Regions from separate parts of the Homo sapiens genome. Here region 1 is linked to region 2. A link means that fine-mapping ties the variant in region 2 to the expression of a gene that starts in the linked region. Tissue or cell type: whole blood. Region 2 holds a variant in brackets; the other region holds the start of a gene. All regions are shown on one strand. Distances are between the middles of the regions.

Region 1 (6,963 bases), 26 kb before region 2:
TGTAAACATCTCCGACTCTTGGCAGTTCTTTCCACAGGCCAGAAGTAAAGTACACTTGATCATCAGATAAAAATTAACTATTATTAATAGTGCATGGCAGGCATTGGCAAACTCCAGGCTATGAGCCAGATTCAGTCTGCTGCCTGTTTTTGTATGTTCCATGAACTAAGAATGGTTTTTATGCTGTAATGTGGTTGTTGTATAAATACCTACATACTATCCTCAATTTTGACTCGATCTACAAAACCTAAACGATTTACTATCTGGCCTTTTCCAGAGAAAACTTGCTGCCCGTCTATAGAGCCTTATCTGCGTTCCACATTCCAGCAGTTTGGATCTTCCTGTTCTTCTGTGGCTCTACTGTATCCCTATATGGTTTGTTAACGCGCCCCTGGGTTGGGAGCATATCACAAAGCCCAGACGGATAACAGTCTGCGCAGGTCTGCGGCGATGGCGACCATCTGTCTTTCAAAACATCTAAACAGATTCTTCCCAAGTGTCTTACATCGGGGTGATAAATTCTGGTCATGAAACATATTTTTGGGCTGCTGCTGGCTATTCTTCTGGAAGAGACAGTTCAAGTTCCAAAGATTCCTCTTCAAAGGAGGAATCCCATGGGCCGGCAATGTCCGTATGAAGTAATGAGTGCTGTTCTCATCTGATTCTGCCCGCTTGAACTCCTGCCAGCAGCAAGTGCTGGGCTGCCTTGGCAATTCCTCAGAGCCTCTCCATCATCTTGCTTTTCTAAAGTATGTTTTTTATGGCATAAAACTGTTTCCCCCATACCTAATAGGAAAAAAGGAACAGCTACTGAAGACAGAGGCTGACAAATGGTAGATACATAATGGTGTGGGGCTGCCGCAGCCTGGGGGTGGGAGGGGAACCGGAAGCACTCTTCCAATTTCAAGATGAAGTTTATTCTACGATGGGATGAAACCCACATCATTACTTCTTGTACTCGATTTTAGCAGTTATGTGTACAGGCTGTTGGGCTGGGCTCCCCAAGCTCAAATACCAGCTTTGTCACTTCTGGTTGTGTGACCATAAGTTACTTCACCTGTTTGTGTCCTAGTTGTCTCATTTGTTTTTAAGTGATATGGGGTCTTGCTGTGTTGCCCAGACTGGTCTCAAACTCCTGGGCTCAAGCAGTCCTCCTGCCTCAGCCTCCCATGTCTCATCTTTAAAATGTGGATAATAAGTCATACCAACTTCACAGTGTAATCATGAGGAGTAAAAATAATAATATGCATCAAATCTTTAAAATGTTACCCAGCACACACTACTATTATTATTGTCACAATTACTATTTTCTTTTTAATAAAAATATTTTTTGTAGAGATGGGGTCTTGCTGTATTGCCCAGGCTGATCTGGAACTCCTGGCCTCAAGTGATCCTCCCACCTTGGCCTCCCAAAGTGTTGGGATTACAGGCATGAGCCACAGCACCCAGCCTAGTACTACTATTTTCTAGTAAATGAGAAGCATTAGATATGAGATAGGAGTGCAGTTACAGTAAGACAGTAAAGACTATTTGGAGTGTTCCTCATCCTATCCCTTCATTCAACAAACTTTTAAAAAAATTGTCTACTATGTACCAAGCACTGAAGGACTAATAAGACACATTCTCTGACCTCAAGGTATATGCGGCACTCAGCAATACAGACAAATCCATTCATTCAGCAAGTACCAAACAACACATGGAGTGGTCAGTCCTTTGGTGAAAAGACATCAAGTCAACATGTCCTTACAAACTCTAAGCTAGCACCATGGCAGTGTTTCACACGGAGAGCCCATCTAGTTGTCTAGGGAGTGGTCAGAGAAGGCTTCTCTACGAAAGGGATAGTTAAGCTGAAATTAGAATTTTGTATAGGAGAAAAGTACTTGGAGGAAGGAAGAGCATTTTCAGTGGAAAAACTGCATGGGTGAAGGGCCCAAAGGAAGGAGGAGCATATGACTCAAATACACTGAAAGGCCAAAGTATCTGGAGGACAGAGAACAAGAAAGGAGGGCGATGGGCTGTGAGGTGGTCAGGCCGAGGCTATAGAAAGGAGGGTTGAAGCAGAAAAGGGGCTTGACTGGATTCCATGTTTTTTTGTTTGTTTGTTTTTTGAGACAGAGTCTTGCTCTGTCACCCAGGCTACAGTGCAGTGGTACAATCTCAACTCACTGCAACTTCAGACTCCCAGGCTCAAGCAATCCTCCTGTCTCAGCCTGCAGAGTAGCTGGGACTAGCGGTGCAAACCACCACGGCCAGCTAATTTTTGTACTTTTAGTAGAGACGGGGTTTCACCATGTTGCCTCGGCTGGTCAAGTGATCTACCCTCTTTGGGCTCCCGAAGTGCTGGAATTACAGGCGTGAGCCACAGTGCCTGGCATCTGGCTCCTATTTTTAAAAGGTCACTCTGGGTGCTGTGCATAGAATGGATTGCACTGGGGCAAAAATGGAAGCGGTGTGAGGAGGGGGAATTTCAGTAGTCAATTCCATCAGGCAAGAAAAGACTGCAGAAAGAGTTGGGCTGGAGAGAAGTGAATGGATTTGCGGTGTGTTTCGAAGGTCAAAGCAACATGACTTGCTGATAGATTGGATTGGATCTTGAGGGTGAGGAAAAGCAAAACTGAGAGTACACCTAGATTTTTTTATTAAGCCACTGGGCAGTCAGTGCTGCCGTTCACTGAGACGGGAAAGGTTAGGGAGAAGCATGTTTGGGGGTGTGTGTGGGGAATCAGTTGTTTTGGCCATGTTAGGTTTGACACACTGATTAGCCATGTATGTGACAACACCAACTGGATACTCAAGCCTGAGGTTCTGGAATGAGGTCCAGGTTGGAGATGTGGCTGCAGGAGCCGGCAGCACAGCATGGAAAGTCGCCTGGAGTGAGTGGATAGGAACAGGACGAGGAGAGTCTGGAACGCTCCACTAACCAGTGGTTAGAGGAGCAGGAGCTAGGAGGGGCCTGGGAAGGAGCAGCCAAGATGCCCTCATGAAGGAAAATGAGAAAATGTTTCAAGAAGGGCGTGGGCAACTGTGACGAATGTTGCTGGTAAGAACAGAAGTGCCATGATTGGATCTGGCAATATGGCAGTCATTAGCAGTTCCCCAGTGGTGAGAAGCGAAGCCTTATTGCAGTGGCTTAAGGAGAAAATGCGAGGTGCGAGATTGCCATTAGATTCTTGCATGAAGGTTTGTCATGAGTGCTGCAGAAAAATGGGCAATGGCGTCTAAGGTGTGTTCTTGAAGGATGAGTAGTAACTGGTCAAGTGAAGAGGTGGAGAGGTAGGCTCTCTAAGGAGGATGTATTTGCAAAGCCATTAGAGCAAGGGAACAGAAATGAAATAAGTGTGTATTTTTCTTGCAATATTTCTGGAAGTTCAAGAGTCAATTGCATGCATTGGGGTTGTGCTCTTACAGCAGTCTCATTTAAATCCTGTCTGCTTTATCGTTATTTGTTAAAGAGACTGAGGGAATGGCTGAGATAATCTGATCTTTTTCAACTCGTTGGTTTGAAAAGACATCTAGGATGGTCAAGCGGCTGGACTTTATTAGCTACATTGAAAAATTCAGAATGGGATAGGGGAAGCTTGTTTTTATTCTAAGACTAGCACATTACAGTGTATGGGGAAGGGAGAAACGATGAAAAGAGGAAACAAGAGGAAGTTTAAAAAGTACAGGGTAGCACTGCAGAATGCCGACACTGCAAAAGTCTGGCGAGCGGGGAGGTGGAGGACAATGTCTCACCTGGGATCCGAGCTGTGAAGTCTCAACTGTGCCCATATGGACTGCATGAGCTTAACAAAATCCTTATTCTTTTTTTTTTTTTTTTGCATTTGCTTTCCATACTCTAAACACGTTTAACGTCGTTTGCCTCACAAGATTGCTCTGAAGGTGCAGGGAGACCGCGGCAGCACACACAAGGCACGTGCGATGCCTACGGTGAGCTTCACCTGCCCGGCGCGTCTGGCGAACGGCTGGCCCCGGGCCGCGGGCCTCAGGCAGGTCCGAGGGTGCCCAGGACAGGGTCGGGGCTTGAATGCCTTTGCTTCCGAAAACAGCGGAGCCGTGGGGCCTCCCCCGCGCCGGCCCTGCCTCCAACCAGCCGCCCAATCCCGGCTCCCATGCGCGTCCACGCCTCCCTATAAGATAAAGCGCGGCCGACGGGCTCCGAGCGCGGCCCCTGGGTTCGAACACGGCACCCGCACTGCGCGTCATGGTGCAGGCCTGGTATATGGACGACGCCCCGGGCGACCCGCGGCAACCCCACCGCCCCGACCCCGGCCGCCCAGTGGGCCTGGAGCAGCTGCGGCGGCTCGGGGTGCTCTACTGGAAGGTACGCGAGCCCAAGCCTCGCAGAGCGTGCGGGCGACGCCGACCCCCAAACGCCGCGCACAGCCCAGCCTCCTCCAGGTGCCGGGCAGCGGCCTGGGAGCCGCGGCATGCTGCGCATGCTCAGCAGCGGGATTTGGGGGTTCGTGGCGGCTCCCGGTGCCTGGGGTGGGCTGCGCATGCTCAGCAGTGGGGCTGGGTGGTCAGGGCCTCCTGCGCGGCGCCTGGGTGTGCTGCGCATGCTCAGCAGCGGCGTTGAGGGGTCGGCGGTCAGCCCCCAGCGCCTGTGGTGTGCTGCGCATGCTCAGCAGCGAAGTTTACGGGGTTGGCGGTCGGCTTCCGGCGCCTGGGGTGGGCTGCGCATGCTCAGCAGCGGGGCTGGTGGGGGTCGGCGGTCCGTTTCTGTTGCCTGGGGTGTGCTGCGCATGCTCAGCAGCAGAGTTGGCGAGTCAGGGGCCTCGCAGCCGGGACTCGCTGCGCACGCGCAGCTCCGGGATTGGCAGCGACCTGAAGGGTCGGCCGGCAGGGCTGCAAGATTCGCCGGAGGCGGGCTGCGAGTTCGTGGGCTCGTTGGGCTTGTCCGACGCCCTGCCTGCCTGGCTAACCTCGGTCAAAGGCCCAGGGGTTTCTTCTATCGGAGGAAGGGGGACTCCGCTTGAAAGTGTCCTGGGGGAGGGACCGGGCGCCAGCAGATCGAGGCGGGGTCCTGCCGCGGTCTGTCGGGGATCCCCGGGGGGTAGCGCTCGGTGGTGGGGTGGGGGCGTCTCCAGTGGGCGGTGGAGCTGGCTTGGGTCCCGGCTGGGCCCGGTGTCAGCCCTGCCTCTGTAACGCTAGCTTTGCAAGGCGGGGCTAGGCTTTGCACCGGTGTCCCGTTGCTTGCACAGCACCAGTCCAGATCCGCTCACCTTGTTTATTTGCAAATGGTTTTGCAGTAACAAAGGTTTACTGCAAAAGAGAGGGCCAGGGTAGGCCTCAGGGATAGGCTGAGGGGTGACTGGATCTAATCTTCATTCATGTGATTTAAATGAAATACACAGGGTTACCTGGACACCACACTTTTTCCCTTGGGAAAGGATTATAGAATATTCCAGCATAATCTATTTGGATATCATCTTGTTCTATCCTAAATAACAGAAGAGGGAAGTGACAATTGGCATACCAGTGCGAAACAGGGCATGCATGTTAATGTTTACATAGTATTTGTCTTTTCCTAGGATAAGGTTTAACACTTACCTTGCTGGAGGGTACTTCTTCAAAGCAATCAAGTGGTTTATAGTTTTCCATTAATGAGAGGAGAATAAATTTTGACTTATTATGTTTATCCACAATCCAAACAACCAGAGGGTTCAAATTAATACACTTGGGGAGTTTCATTGTGCATTTGACGGTTTTAAGAACAAGAACAAGAGTGAGATTACAGGTCAGCTTCTTAATGTATTCAAAGAATAAAATAAGATTTATTTTAATAGACATCTTTTAGATTATTACATGGGCTCAAACATAGTTTTTCCTACCGTCTAGTTCTGCTCTGAGTCAGGGCTATCAAAATTAAATCATGTTTACTCTGTGGTTTTAATGTCCTGTGTGTTTTTATATTCTTCCTTTCTTTTTTTTTTTTGCTCTTTTTGCCCAGGCTGGAGTGCAGTGGCATGATCTCGGCTCACCGCAACCTCATCTTCCCGAGTTCAAGCCATTCTCATGTGTCAGCCTCCCGAGTAGCTGGGATTACAAGGTGCACAGCACCATGCCGGGCTAATTTTGTATTTTTAGTAGAGACAGGGTTTCTCCATGTTGGTCAGGCTGATCTTGAACTGCTGACCTCAGGTGATCCACCCACTTCGGCCTCCCAAAGTGCTGGCATTATAGACACGAACCACCGCACCCGGCCTATATGCTTTCTTAATATCCATTCTGGATCAGTGCTGTTGGAAGACAAAATTACAACAAATTTAGTTAAAGATCTAATTAGCTTTTATTCTTGATTTGTGAATAGGGCAACCTCCGTTCTACAAAATAGAATAAGAGCTCGATAGGGTAATAGCACAACAGTGGGTTTTGTAGGGCGGCAACAAAGAAACAGAACAATAGGTAGAAAAGCTGATTGGTTAACGTCAAGTTACATTAGGTTACTTTTTTCCTAAGGGTTAAAGCAGAAGCGACTTCCTTATTATTCTGACTCAGGAAGACTGGAATCTTCTGATCGCAGGAAAAGCTGGTCTGTTTGAGATGCACCTCCTTCTTTAAAGTTTTAGTTTGATCAAGTGGCATATGGCATGAGTGGCTGCATTTTGGTTTGGTCTCATCCTGGGGCCTAGTGCAGGGGCTCAGTCCAAAACAGTGACCTCTCCTGGGCCAGGCATGGTGGCTTCTGTCATCCCAGCACTTTGGGAGGCTGAGGCGGCAGATTGCCTGAAGCCAGAAGTTTGAGACCTCATCTCTAAAAAAACCCAAAAAACAAAAAAGCCACACACACACCCCATATTAACATTATATATATGTAACATCTCCCATAATTTTTAACAGAGGTAACACATGTGGACATGTTTGTGTATCTGTTTAATCAATCTGTTATTAGTGACATAGAGTTCTAAAAAACCTTTTGTCATACATACAAACAATTGGAAGATTATTTTAGCTTGGAAT
Region 2 (6,963 bases):
CTATCTCAGTAATTAAAATAAGTGCTGATCTACTGATTTTTTTTAATGGATTCATTTCTAAATGGGCATTATAAATAGAGCTTGTTCATTTTTAAGAACGAAACATTCATATGATAAACTATCGCTTTAAATTGCCTTTCTTGCTTCATATAACTTTTCCCTGTCAGGATCCTTAGTGTTTGAAACTCCTCGTGCGGGGCTGGCCTCCTGCGGACTCTAGTTTCGCCTCCTTGATGTGGCGCCTGGGATTTCTTCACTTCAGAGCTGTATTTTTACAGGCAAGAGTAAGTTCCTGGGCACAGTGGCTCATGCCTGTAATCTCAGCTACTCAGGAGGCTAAGGTGGGAGGATTCTTAGAGCCTGGGAGGTCGAGGCTGCAGTGAGCTGTGATTGTGGCCACTGCACTCCAGCCTGGGTGACAGAGCGAGACTCTGTCTCAAAAAAGAAGAAAGAGTAAGAGCTGAGGCATATAATAGAATTCTGCTAAAGCACTTAAGGTGAAATCACATTTTCTTTTCCCAGGATGTTGCTCACATCTTTCGTTTTTATTGAGGTGTCATTTATATACAATAAAATGTACTCATTTTCAGTGTTTTTGAATTTTGACAAATGCAGCATGACCTCAGGCAGAACAACATAGGACATTTTCATCACCCAAAGAAGGTTCTCATGCCCCTTCTTAGTCCCCCCACCCCATCCTAAGCAACCTATGTGGGTGGGTTTTGGCTTTTCTAGAATTTGATGCACGTGGAATCCTGCAGCATGTTCACGTTTGTATCCGGCGTCTTGCGTTCCTGCTTCTGTTCCCTGATCCCTACACTTACACTGTCTCCTGGGTCAGGGCAGCCCCTTGTTAGTATCTTAAACAATGGAACGGTTTGAGGAGAGCTCGAGGGTTGAAAAACACTAAGCGAGCGGAAATGTAATGTAGTAAGAAACAGAACTCTAGGCGGGGAGAAAACCTAGGGAGGTAAAAGGCTGTTCTTCCCGAAGGCATCACTGTAAAGTAGTGGGGGGGTCTCTCTTCAAGCCGAATGTTAGAGAAGACGGATCCTTGGCTGGGCGCGGTGGCTCACGCCTATAATCCCAGCACTTTGGGAGGCCGAGGTGGGCGGATCACCTGAGGTCAGAGGTTCAAGACCAGCCTGGCCATGATGGCGGGTGCCTGTAATCCCAGCTACTCAGGAGGCTGAGGTGGGAGAATTGCTTGAACCCAGGAGGCGGAGGTTGCAGTGAGCTGAGATCTTGCCATTGCAGTCCAGCCTGGGCAGCAGAGCGAGACTCTGTCTCAAAAAACAAAAAAAAGAAGATGGGTCCTTTATAAACACATTCGTTAGATTCTAAATCAGGTATTTTTTCCAAGGAGCCCAACTGTTAGTTTCCCAAGCGGGACAGCTGTTGGTTTTCACTGTGTCCAAGTTCGTCAATTTAGAGCAGGCTCTGCCTGCTTGCTGAGTAAGATATTCCTGGACATGTGTTATTTTTCAAGTGTGCCCTCTTTTTACAGGCACAGATGTATTTATTGCCATGGGGTTTATGACTGGGATATTAATAAATCAGAATATGAATTATCGCACTTGAGTATGGCTTCAAGCTGGTTAATGTGTTGGCATTTTCAAGACACTTTGATTTTTCCTGCCGTCTTCCTACTCGAGGTAGATACCGCACTGCAGACAGCACAGGCAACCTGGTGAGAGGCCTGCTCGCATTGTGGGGACTTCACGCTTGTTTCTAAGGAGTAGGCGTGGATAATCCAGGAAATGTCCAGCCTTGTTCTATCTTGTTCCAGATTCAACATCTTATCCCAATGAAGTCCTGGCCCCAGGACGCTCTCCCGGTTTGGAATAGCTGTTACAGGCTTCTTCATTCCTGCGGCGGCTCATTTCCCTATTTGGTTTTGTCCTCACTTCCGAAAAGTGAATAGGATCATCTCCTTTCTGATTTTTATTTCTCTTCTTGCCATCCATCTCTTCATCTTGTTAACTAAAAGATGACACAATCTATACATTTAGAAGAGGAGACATTCTTTCTTTTTCTTTTCTTTTTTTTTGAGATGGAGTTTCATTCTCGTCGCCCAGGCTGGAGTGGAGGGGTGTGATCTTGGCTCACTGCAACCTCTGCCTCCTGGGTTCAAGCGATTCTCCTGCCTCAGCCTCCCGAGTAGCTGGGATTACAGGCGTGCACCACCACACCCGGCTAATTTTTTTTGTATTTTCAGTGGAGATGGGGTTTCACCATGTTGCCAGGCTGGTCTCGAACTCCTGACCTTGGGTGATCCATCCGCCTGGGCCTCCCAAAGTGTTGGGATTACAGGTGTGAGCCACCATGCCCACCTAAAGACATTATTTCTTGTAAAGAGTTACACTCTGCAAGGTGGCATCCCGCAGGCTGGGAAGCACAGCCTCCCGCAGAGACCGCAGACAGGCATCTTGGAGGAGAAGGGGCAGGAGCTTTATGCTGAATGGGCTGGAGGATCATACATATTCAACAGGTTACAGGAGGAGCTGTGAATATTCATGAAGTGGTCCTGACGCATGTGTATTGAACAAACATCCACTTACATACAACCCATGTTCACCTTGGAGAGGAGACTTAACATCTACGTGCATCCCAGGCAGGCTCTGCACTTCTAAAGGTGAAACAGGGACATGAAGGCTCCCAGTGCTCAGCCTCTATCAGCCGGCCAGAGCCCATCCATGGGCTTATTCTTGTCCAGAGGAAGTTACTGAAATCGGTCTCTTGTTCCATCAAAGCTGTAGTTACGGCTGGTGGAACAGGGCCAGTTAGCCAGCATCGGGTGGTGGATAAACTACGACTTGTTTTCATCTTGCTCATCTCAAGGCCAACGCTGGTTTAGCTGCTGGAGAAGAAAACCTTGGTGGTGGTGAGGACAGAGTTTCTTATTTAGGTTCAGGGTGCGAGACTTCGCTGTAGCCTGGCCAGGCCTTAGGTCCTGTGTGTGATTTGTGTCTTATTGCCACAGTCTGTTCTCTGGTCTCACCATCTCTATTTTAACATGAATGCTGGCCAGTTGTGTCTAAATCCCAAAAGGGAGGGGGTATAGTGGGGTGTGTCTGACCTCCCGTCCATCGTGCCTGGGAACTCATTTTTTTTTTTTTTTTTTTTTTTGAGACGGAGTCTCGCTCTGTCACCCAGGCTGGAGTGTAGTGGCGCGATCTTGGCTCACTGCAAGCTCCACCTCCCAGGTTCACGCCATTCTCCTGCCTCAGCCTCCCGAGTAGCTGGGATTACAGGCGTCTGCCACCACGCCCGGCTAATTTTTTGTATTTTTATTAGAGACGGGGTTTCACTGTGTTGGACAGGTTGGTCTCGATCTCCTGACCTCATTATCTGCCCGCCTTGGCCTCCCAAAGTGCTGGGATTACAGGCTTGAGCCACTGCGCCCCGGCTGGGAACTCGTTTTTTAAGGTTGGCCAACGGGTTCCATTCAGTCAGTTGGGGGGCTCAAGATTTTACTTTAAATTTGCGATCCTTATCATTCAAGTGTAGAAGGAAGAATGGAGAGCCCGGTGAGACGCTCCGCTGGCCTCTGAGCAGCGACTGTCAGCAGATGCCCCTCCTTAGCCAGGGCCCCAGTGATGGTCTCTGTGTGTGAGCTGATTAAAAATGACGATAAAGAGGCCTCCGCTATCAGCTCATGACCCTGAACTCTCCATTTTAAAAAAGCCTAAATTGACCTCTTACAGAAGGGAAGGACGAAGAGAGACTCACTCCTCATCGGACTGGAACTAGGTGGAAGCAGGGAGGAGCTAGGCTCACAGTGACTGCGTAGCTCAGTTTATTTCCTGCAGTCCCCATTTCTGACATTCTGTCCTCTGGCCGTATATGTACAGACCACATATTCTAATGTTTGATTAGAAAATATAGCTACTAAATTCAATTCTTGCATCAAAATTGTATTTTAAAATATAAGCATGTTTAATACTGGTCTACAGAATGAGCTGGTTGCTTTGTTTGTACACAGAGCTCACATTAAGCCTCACGTCCAATCGT[G/T]GCTTCCGTCCACTGTGATGGGCGGATTCTTCCTAGGGGCCTCCCCTGGCCGTCTCTCACTGTGAACGCCACCCCTGTCTCCCGCCCACACCACTGCAACCTGCCTTACAAACTCCCCCGCTCTCCTTCCAGCCCAGCACAAGCTCAGGACGCCAGACGTCCACACTGCCCAAGCTGCTGTGGTTCACCCAAGACTTTGGAGGAAATATTCCTTCTTAAATTTGTGTCAATAAGCCAGACAGCTTTCCAGCTCCTTAGAAGTAGTTATCCTGTGGAGTGTGGACTTCATTCTTTACCTCCTTAAATTAAGATGAAATTTAGAAAGGCAAACCGGGCTGCAGTGGGCACCTGACTGCACAGAGTGGCTGCTGATTTGCTGATTTGCAGGAGATTAAACCCAATCCGAGATGGAGGGGGTCTCATTTCTGCGCTTACATCGTCATGCATGTGGTTGGACTTGTGTGCATGCGTGTGGACCTGCGTGCCTGTGTGTGCACGTGTGCTTCTGCGAGCTCTTCAGAGAGCCTGTAGAGGCTGGTGGTTACGAACTGAGGGATGTAAATGAGCCACTGTGGGCTCCATGACCTTTCTTTCCCTGCCTGTCCCCCAAGGAGGGGCGTGTGAGGTAACCACTGCAGACGTTTTCCTGCGTGTCCACAAGGAGATCGTCTGGTTCTATTGATGGAGGTGTTTTCCCTAGTTCTGTGGTGAAGTTGGCAGCTTCAGACATTTTGTTCTCATGACGCAGCTCTGACAACTAAGATGGGCTCCCCTGCCTCGGCCGGGCTCCTCGGTTTCCCGAGAGTGAGGCCTCTGTTGGTCGATCGTGTTACCGGGTGGCTGTGAGTTACGCAACTCACGAAAACATCTCATCCGGATGGGCATGGGGCGGGAGGGTGACCCCAGGAGCTATGAGTAACTTCCCAGCATGCCGGCTTCTTGCGCGTTCCCAGAGCCTGGTGTGTGATACCCCAGGTGGGCGGGTGGATGGCTGGAGTCTGGTTCTAGTCACACAGACCAAGAATGCGACATTTAGATGTGATCTAAAAACAGCCATTTTTCCAAAAGCTGTTTACTTTGGAAAGTGTATCAGGCAGCAGTTTCTGGAGACCTGTAATCGTTTTATGATTTATGCAGTGAAAACCTAATTACAAAAAGGACGGGCGCGGTGGCTTACGCCTGTAATCCCAGCACTTCAGGAGGCCGAGGCAGGAGGATCACTTGAGGAGTTTGAGACCAGCCTGGCTAACATGGTGAAACGCCATCTCTACTAAAAATACAAAAATTAGCCGAGCAGGGTGGTAGGCACCTGTGGTCCCAGATACTGAGGTGCTGAGGTGGGAGGATCACTTGAGCCCGAGAGGCATGACAGGTGTGTACAGGGGCTGAGCGGCAGGTACTTTCTGAATCTCAAGGGAAGACCTGCAGCCCGTGGGCACTTCACGGGCCATGGATGGAGCGCCTGTTGTCAGCGGCGTGGGAGAACTCTAGGGATGGGGCTGTGCTGAGGCCAGCGGCCTGCAGGTGCACGGCCAGTGAGCTGGGCTCTTTCCAGCAACACCTTCAGGAGACTCTGGTGGTTTCTTTTCTCCCTCATTCTCTGACAAAGAAGACGCTGGGATGCGCCATGCATCCCACATCTGAGAAATGCTTGCCTCCTGTGTGCTGGACACTGGGCCAGGCGCTGGCGAAGGGATAGGGTGGTGGAGCCAGTTTATCCTGAAAGTCCCTTTGCACACATCTCTTATTACATGTGTGTTGAGACCGAAAATAAAGTCTGGAACCAGGGTGTCACAGATGAGGGTCACAGACACACAGCAGATATAGCATGGTGCTCCCAGCAGAGATGGAGCTCCCAGCAAAGATGCAGGAGAGCATGTACAGTCCCTGGACTCAGCCTATGTGCAGCAAGAAATTCATTAGGGGATCTCTGGCCCCGGGTGCCACCTGGGAGCATGTGTGTGCAGGGCCACCTGGCCAGCGAGGGCCCTAGGATGGCCTGACCCGTCAGGGATGCTGACAGCAGGGCTGGCTCAGTCACCGAAAGGGGAAACAAAGGCTCTCCGGGGCCTCCCTGGGGCTTGCACCATCCTGAGGTCTTCAGACCCCCTTGGAGACGGAAGGGAGGTGGCCGAGTGGCCTGTGGCGTGGGGCTCCTTTGCTGTTCCTTGCAACTTGGGGGTCTCTGACTCTTGGAGCTGGGTGACAGGTGGGGATTTTTGCTCCTCTAATGGTCTTTGGATGATAAACTCCCAACTGACGCTCCAGGCTGGTGTCTTTACAATGCATGCTCTGAGGAAAGCTAGTCTGTGAAGCCATGCATTGAAAGGGTTCTATTATGGGTTGGGAGTCTGAGTCCCTCTTGGGGAGAGCCGTCGTGCAGGGAGCAGCTGGAGGCCTCGGGGCTGTGCTTAGCTTTGCTTCCCCAGCTTTGCTGACCCCAGTGAGCTCTTTCCCACGTGGTACCTGTCAGCAGTGCAACGGGAAGTTCTGTGTGTGTTAAACCACACAGGGGGTTCAGAGCTATCCCCAGGGCAGACCTGGAGTTTTTTCTGGTGTTCCTTAAAAGCATCTGATGAATATTGGGATGAATTTCCTGAAGAACTTGGAGGAGACTTTCTCCTTTCTGAAAATTAAACGTTCAGATCAGCACATGATAGGAATCTGGGTGGTGGAGGAGAAGATGTGGGTCAGTCTCCCCAGTGCCCCAAATCCAGTGAAATGACAACAATTTTTTAAAAAATTAAGTGTGTTGTTTTAAAAAATACAACCACAAGTTTCTGACGATCTCCCTCAATTTATCCTCCCCTTCAGCATGGTCTCTGTTGGTCACTTGTTTCTAATGAGTAGGAAGCGGCTGAGGTGGCTGTGGGTGGCCTCTGTTGGCATGTAGTTTCCTGCTTGCTCTCAGACATTGCGCTCTGGGGAAGCTGGCTGCCACGTCCGCAG

What was found. PIP is the estimated chance that this variant, and not a neighbour inherited with it, causes the effect.
Region 1: it holds the start of ADI1, and the variant in region 2 is fine-mapped to the expression of ADI1 in whole blood (TOPMed, PIP 0.97). The same link has a PIP of 0.9 or more in blood mononuclear cells.

Annotation. Positions count from the first base shown.
Region 1 is chr2:3,516,729-3,523,691 of GRCh38, reverse strand. ADI1 (acireductone dioxygenase 1) reads left to right here and starts at 4,161. Exons shown (of 4, transcript NM_018269.4): 1 at 4,161-4,324. The coding sequence starts at 4,205. LOC124907725 (a long non-coding RNA gene) reads right to left here and starts at 4,146. Exons shown (of 2, transcript XR_007086195.1): 1 at 3,736-4,146; 2 at 1-786. RefSeq lists enhancers at 3,453-3,973, 3,974-4,495 and silencers at 3,915-4,044, 4,115-4,434, 4,515-4,574, 5,055-5,254.
Region 2 is chr2:3,490,992-3,497,954 of GRCh38, reverse strand. It overlaps ADI1 (acireductone dioxygenase 1), which reads left to right. Exons shown (of 4, transcript NM_018269.4): 4 at 1-589. Among named protein-coding and RNA genes, the nearest start is that of TRAPPC12-AS1, 11 kb to the right of the region's middle. The variant G/T (reference allele first, on the strand shown) is at 4,015.